Linked DNA regions of Homo sapiens. The protein of the gene in region 1 purifies or fractionates together with the protein of each later gene. This does not show direct contact. Each region holds a gene or a part of one and is shown in the gene's direction. Other genes may lie near its edges.

Region 1 (3,654 bases):
GGAGCCAGATTTCAGCTCCGTTGTTGTTTTTCTCTAGGTAAACCACCGCAGAGCCCCGACCCTCTGTGATACCTGCTCAGTGAGACCAAAAGGTCTCGGATGCCAGAGCTTTAGGAAATGACAGCGACAGGGAATGTCACCATGTTTCCAACATGCAGATACAGCCCAGGGAGGTTACCAATGGCATTCCTAAGATTAGAGTTCAAGGTAGAATTAGGGATGAGACTTCAGGTCTCTGTCTCCATGTCTGCCAAGTGCTCCTTCTATTTTTTCTTGCTCAGCCTGGTGAGCACACTATAAACTCACCCCCTCAGGCCTTCCAATGAATATATTTCCTGCATGTGTGGTCATCCATTCTCTCCCAAGAATGTATTGGAAAGAAAGGGGGCTTTAAGTCCTCTCCCTGTAAGTTATCTCCCTTTTCTCCAGCATGGAAATGCAGACTTAGAGGAAATATTAAATCAGCTGTTTGTATATTCCTTGAATTTTTAACAGACAACCTTTGAATCAAGTCTTTAAAAATAACAGCAATGTGGCTTTCCTGATTGTAAAATTAAACCTGTTCACTGCAGAAGACTTGGGAAATATGAAGAGCACAAAAATCCAATCCCCCTTACCTAACCGACAAGAAGCAACACCTGCTAACCTTTGAATTTCTCTTTTATGACTATTATACTACATAATTGAGGTTAGATTCTATATAATTTTGTAGCCTATATTTTTCCATTGGTATTAATGAAAGACTTTAATAACACCTTCCTGTGTTATTCAAAAGTTTTCAGAAACATAATCTTAATGGCTTCATACTATTCTATTATGTGAATATGCTATTATTATTTACGTAGTCATTTCTCTACTGTTGTGTATTTAGGTGATTTCTAGATTTTTGCTATTATAATTAATAATCTAAGGAATATTTATATATGATAATTTTGTTTTGCCTTCTTGATTATTTTCTTAAGATAGATCCCAATAAGTAGAATTACTACATCAAATAAAATGAATTTTTAAAAAGCTATATCTTCTCATTTTAAAGGATTTTTAAAGGAATTGTTGAGTCAAACTATCTTGGTAAACTTTGTCAAATTTCCTATTAGAATCAAGATATATGCGGAGAAAAACTTCAGTTGCAGATTGCAGTACTAATTTAAATGTTTCCTGTAGTCTTTCTACAGGAAAGGTGGGGTGGGGTCAGGGAAGGAAAAAAAGGGATGGGGGGAAAGGAAGGGAAGGTAGGAGAAGGAGGGAAGAGGGAAGAAAAGTGGGAGGTGGGAAGGGGATAGGAGAGGAGGGGAGGGAAGAAATATCTCCATTAGAAAGAGTTTTATTTTTTGAAGGCAGCAGTTACCTAGAATTTAAAAATGTTTCAGAGACAAATGTAGCTAAATAAGATCAGGTTTACCTCTATCTAAACTCCAACAAATACCAGGGATTTTAGCTATTGAAACTCTATAATTTCTCTGACTTAGAATTTAAAAATTCTTTACAACTATAAAACTAAAAGGTATGTATGATGTTTCATGAAATTTGAAGATGGGGGACACAGAGAGGTGATGACTCCCCCCTCAACAGCCCCGTTCCCCTAACCCCCATTTTCAGGAGTTGGTGACAATTACTGGTTCTATTATGATGCTCTGGCAAGTACTGTGGAGCAGAACCTAAGAAGGGAGTAGAGGAAGGGAGGCAATCTCCAAGCCCTGCAGGGAGCTGGGGAATGGGCAACAGATAACCTGATTTGAAACCATGCACATAGCAACAGGAGCAACAGCGAGGTCCAGACAAGCACTGGCCTGGTATCACTGTTTCTCTACCTGGTAGGGGCAAGCATAATTTCAGCAAAATGAAAGGTAGCAGTTGCTCACTCAGACTCCAAATAAAATGGTCTCTCTGAGACCAAAAAATATAGTTGCCCAGAGAGAGTAATGGTTGAAGGCAAAAGAGGAATTGAGCTCTCTGAGAGAGCTGATAATGTAAAAGAGGAACCTAGAACAAAAACATGAATAAATCACAAAAACTTTGTCCACTGAACTCGTGTCTACACACTCTGTCCCAGCCATACTCAGCTACCAATTTAAATATCCTGCTTTCCAGGTCTCTATTAGACCTGCACTCTATCCTTGAACTTTACCTTGTTGGTTGAACTGCAATCTCATTGTTTATCTCAGAGCAGTCTTCCCTCACCCCACCTGGAGGGGGAATTAAATTCCAGGATCCTTTGCACTAATTCGGATGGCCCTGGAAACCCATTACCATGCACTGCTGTGATGCTGTGAATGGCCATTCACTAGAAGCTCATTGGCCACAACTGGCCCTGTCTTTTCCAATGTCAGCATTGATGTGGATCAAAATGGAGTTTGTTAATTCTCAGATGGGTCATTTAGATTTCAGGGCCTTTCTTCAAGAGGTCCAATGCCCACCTCCTCTCTGGAGCTGCTCCGTTACACTTGCCACACTCTCTCCCTACTCCTGGGAGCCTGCAGTGTCCTGAATGGTCAAGGGTGTTACTTTTTTAAAAAACTGGAAGAAATCATAGTTTGAATTGGAGGCAAATAAAGAATAATTCTCAAAATAAAAGCACATAGCACAAGCACAAGACACTGTTACTATTATTGTTGCTGAATTAGAGTGAGGATCATGAGACAGAAACACCATCAAACTTAGATAAAGATATTCAGTCTATCAAGTGTTGATGCCATCAAGGTAAGGTGAGGTTTCCTAACTCACAGCCTTGTTTATTCCCTCAAAGGGCTATATATGAAGGCAAATAAGACTGATTTAGAGGTAACTAAAATATAAGGTATTAAGTAAAATGTTTCATATGGGTTGTACAGATATATTCCATAGGAGACAAGAGGAGGGACATCCTGCCCAGCAGTGATGAATGATCAAGGAAGACCTCAAGATAGGGCAACTGAGTTAGGCCTTGAAGATTAGATAAGATTTTTAGAGAAGTTGATTAAAAAAAAAAGAAATGACCTTTCAGGTAGAAGAAGCTGTATGACAGAAGCATGGAAGTCAAATGTTGCAAAGTGCCTCAGGTCAATGACAGACTGATTCAACCGAAGTGAATTCACAGGTGAATCAGGGAATGAATTGAGGAGTTGCCCAGAAAAATATGAGAATACTCTATGTTGAATTTGACATGAAAATATAACGATTAGTTGGAATGCCCGACAAGAAACTTGAGAAGTGAGGCTAGAGAATGACAAGCCAGGGATCAAAGAGACAATATCAGCAGAGAATGGTAAGAGGAAATAAAATTAGATGGCAGTGAAGGGAATGATCTCTTTCCTCATCCATCCGTCCATCAAACCACTATTGAGCACTTACTGTGTGCCATATTCTGAGGCAGTAAGACATTGCCTTTGCCATTGTGTCTCAGTCTTTGGAGATTAACAAGGTCACGAACAGCATATAACCCAATGCAATCAATGCCATGCAGAGGGAGCAGAGTTAGAGCAAAGAACTCCCTTGGGAATATGGGAAAGACTTCCTGGTAAAAGGAGAAGAAGAAGGAGAGGGAGGGCAGTAGGGGAGAGAGGATGGAGGGGAGAGAAAAGAGAAGGAGGAGACAGAATGAAAGAGAATGAAGAGAAAGAAGAGGAGGAAACGACAAAGAGGAAGAGAGGCAGCAAGGCACAGGGAAATGAATGT
Region 2 (3,654 bases), about 83 Mb from region 1:
GTCAGTACATGAATAAAGCGTTAGAAAGTGTTCATCATTTAACACCATTTGCCCAAATGCAGCTTGTAAATTAACTCTTTAAGCTGGCTTTTCTGTCTGAAAGTGATCACAGTTGAAAAAAAAAAAAAAAAGGATATTTGAAATCAGCAGGAGACTCCCAAATCAAGAAAGGCTAGAAAAGAGGAAGGGGGTTTGGAATATACATGATATAAATCAACAGACAGTGGTTAAATAGATATCAAGAGGCTCTAGTTCTAGTCCTGGCTTTGCCACTATGCAGGTGTGTGTCCCATGAGCACATCATGTAACTCTCGTGGGCTTTAGTTTTCTTGTCTATAAAATGAGGGAGTTGGTCTAGATGCTCTCTAGAGTCCCTCTAGTACTTACATTTCGCAACTCTTAGAACATCAAGCCATTACATTTTTTCCTCAGCAAGAATATGCTGTCTTCCCAAGGATTTATGACAATTTACCCTCTGGGATAAGGAGGGAAAATTGAAGTTGTATACTTGAAATTCTCAGCTCCTGAAAATATGTGTCGCAGCCAGACAAACCTGTGACCCCTCTGTGGCTGAGTCAGTGGCTCCGTGTCTTGTGCGGTAGTGGTGAAGTGCTCCAGGAGTGAGGATCCCTGGGGCCCCTCGGGGCAGGAGCTGAGCAGTGAGCCTTTATGGAGCTGCACATCTGCAGTTTGTCACAGCCCTGACTTCTGGGACTTACTTGTCTACAACCAGTCCCCTGTGCACATTGGAGGCTTCACCTCTGATTGAGACTACATTTTTCAGAAGTTGGATAGAAACAAGAAAGGGGATTTAGCATGGTGGTTAGAAGGGACTAGTCTTGTTACAGTGAGAAAGATCCACTTCTTACTTGCTCAGATGGTTTGATTTGTCCTCAGAGAAGTTAAACAACTGACAGAGTTGCTCCTCTGAAAACATTTTGTATGAATACTTTAGGTTCATAGGGAACTCGTCAATCCATATCTCATAGAATAGAGGGACTTTTCATTCAAGTCTAATTTTTACATATAGACAATCTACCAGTGTTCAGAAATTGTGGCAGATTTCATGAGGAGAATTTTTTACTTGGATTTGTGCTCTTCTATAAAAAGTAATTTAAAAATTCAGTGATGAAAGTTTCTCCTAGACCCTGTTCTCTTCCTTTGTGGAGAAAAAAAATCCGTATAGAACTCTAGTATGTATTTATCTATAAAACAATTGTTTAAAAATATTGAGGTTAGCTCTTCCCCTTTGCTAATGCAATAAGCACATTATTTGCAAAGGGAAGCATTAATTATACTACTATTGTATGCAGTATTAAATGAATTGTCAATGTCACGATCAAAATAAACCCTTGAAGAACTGGCTGTTGTTCCCATACCTTCATGAGAATTGTAAACACTCATGTAAAATAGAAACCATTATTTACCACTTTGCAGTGAAATGGATCATGTGTTCTGACACCTGTACCCTGAGTTGAGTGGGAAACAGGGACTGTTTGATGAATTAAAGGTAACTTTATTCCTGTATACCACTAGGGGTGCAAGTGAGGGGACTGTAGACAATTAGTACTTTAGATATTTGTTGGAGTCCTGCTGTGTGTGCAGTATTGTGTTTCATTTTGCATACTTATTTAAAACGATACTACTTATTTGAAATGATTCATTTTAGTTCATTTTAACCAACATTTTTTAGTCCCCTACTCCATATCAGACTGATAGGCCTTATGGCCAAAAAGATGACTTCCTCCAGGGATACTTACTGTCTGTGTTAGATTCAGTAATGGGAGTCTCGGTCTTTAAGGAATCCATGATACATTTTTCAGTCTGGTTGGGAAAGATAAGACACATGAGGTAGAGAAGATTGTCCTAGAAATGTTGGTATATAAATAAGCATGTAACATTGTTTCATAAGTATTAAGGATGAGCTATAAAATAACTAGGTTGTAGCTCATACTTCTACTTGCTTAATTGTGTATTACATGATAAATTACCCGATTCTAGAGATATGCACTAACCACTCTCATTAGCTTTCTTTGGGAAAAGTCTGCACCAAAGATAAATAGTGATTTCAAAATAAGTTTTAATCATGAACTTGATTATTTTGGCTGTATCTCTTGAAACACTTTACCATATAGCCTATGTGAAATAATTAATCATAATGACAATACATGATTTATGAGAAACCATAATTTATGCTGTAAGACCTGCCATTTTATTACATTCTTATTTTTATTTTTCATGCAGCAGTATTTTCGTTTATTGTGTTTTGTGCTTTTCTTTTATTCTCTATGTAATTTGTGTGCCTTTATAAGCCCAAACTTGCTGTTGAAAATATTCCCTCCCATTGTTATGAATAAACAGAATGTTTCAAAATCTCTCGTGATGTATGCTAGAATAAATGGTCTCATTGAATCTTACTTTGAATCTCAGAATGATGCACTGATGGGAATTTTTCACTTACTGTCATTTTGTCGACAACTACATAAGCAGTAAGTCTGTTTAAAAAAGGCACTGACTAAGGAATCACAAAATCCAACTGGACTTCACAAGAACTATTAATACTATTAGTCTGAGACCTGTGATAAACAACTCAGATGTTAAAGGTCTAATTCAGACTGTCAACAGATGAAAAATAAGTGTCAGTCTGAAATCTTCGGATAGTATATCGGCAAGTGTCAGTCTTCCAAAATATTATTTAGAACTGTGAATATAATTTTTCACAGAAGCAACATTAATCCATAAATCTCCCGTCCTGTAGTGTAACTATAGTATATCAGTTCCATGGGAAAATAGTCCTGCTCTAAGCTACTCAACAGCAGGGACTTTATCTTTCTACAGGACTTAAATCTTGACCTCCAGTGGTTCTACATACCTTAAGTGAATGAATGAGTTTGAATTCTAGTTTTGAACACCTTCACCTGCTACTCTTGGATAATCGTGTCTGTTTGTGCCTAGTACCTATCCTCTGTCCTTTTGTAAACTGGTCTGAGACCCTGATACCATTTATCCTGCATGTTTCAAAGGAAAAAACTATTTAGACTTTAAAAAAATGCTTTTCTAATACAACTTGCTAGATAAATAATTCATTATACCAAATTCCTTAGTAAAGAAATTAACGGCTGGGTGCAGTGGCTCACACCTGTAATCCCAGCACTTTGGGAGGCTGAGGCAGGTGGATCACTTGAGATTAGGAGTTCAAGACCAGCCTGGACAACATGGTGAAACCCCATCTCTACTAAAAATACAAAAAAAAAAAAATTAGCCAGGCGTGGTGGCGGGCGCCTGTAGTCCCAGCTACTTGGGAGGCTGAGGTGAGAGAATCACGTGAACCCGTGAGGCAGAGGTTGCAGTGGGCAGAGATTGCACCACTGCACTCCAGCCTGGGTGACAGAGCGAAACTCCATTTCAAAAAGAAATTAATTAGAAGATTTTAAACAGATTGGTTCATATTCATTTTAAACTTAATTGCCTGGATTATAACCATAGTGAGATGAGTTTTCATAATGCTCTTTATCATACTACTAATAGGCACCAATCAAGCACCAAGACTAAGCTAAGCTTTGAAAGTGTGATATTGAGCAAACTTTCTGTATCTGTACCTTTTGTGAATCAGTAATATCTTTGTATACTCAGTTGAAGAGTTAAGACAGAAGT

What was found.
Region 2: the proteins of TACR1 (region 1) and PKP4 purify together in Homo sapiens (affinity purification with mass spectrometry; 2 studies listed by BioGRID and IntAct, with this or other methods). This does not show direct contact.

What each region holds. Positions count from the first base shown.
Region 1 is NC_000002.12:75,192,968-75,196,621, reverse strand, and holds part of TACR1 (substance-P receptor), read left to right. Parts: intron 1-3,654. UniProt on the Homo sapiens protein: This is a receptor for the tachykinin neuropeptide substance P. It is probably associated with G proteins that activate a phosphatidylinositol-calcium second messenger system.
Region 2 is NC_000002.12:158,463,298-158,466,951, forward strand, and holds part of PKP4 (plakophilin-4), read left to right. Parts: intron 1-3,654. UniProt on the Homo sapiens protein: Plays a role as a regulator of Rho activity during cytokinesis. May play a role in junctional plaques.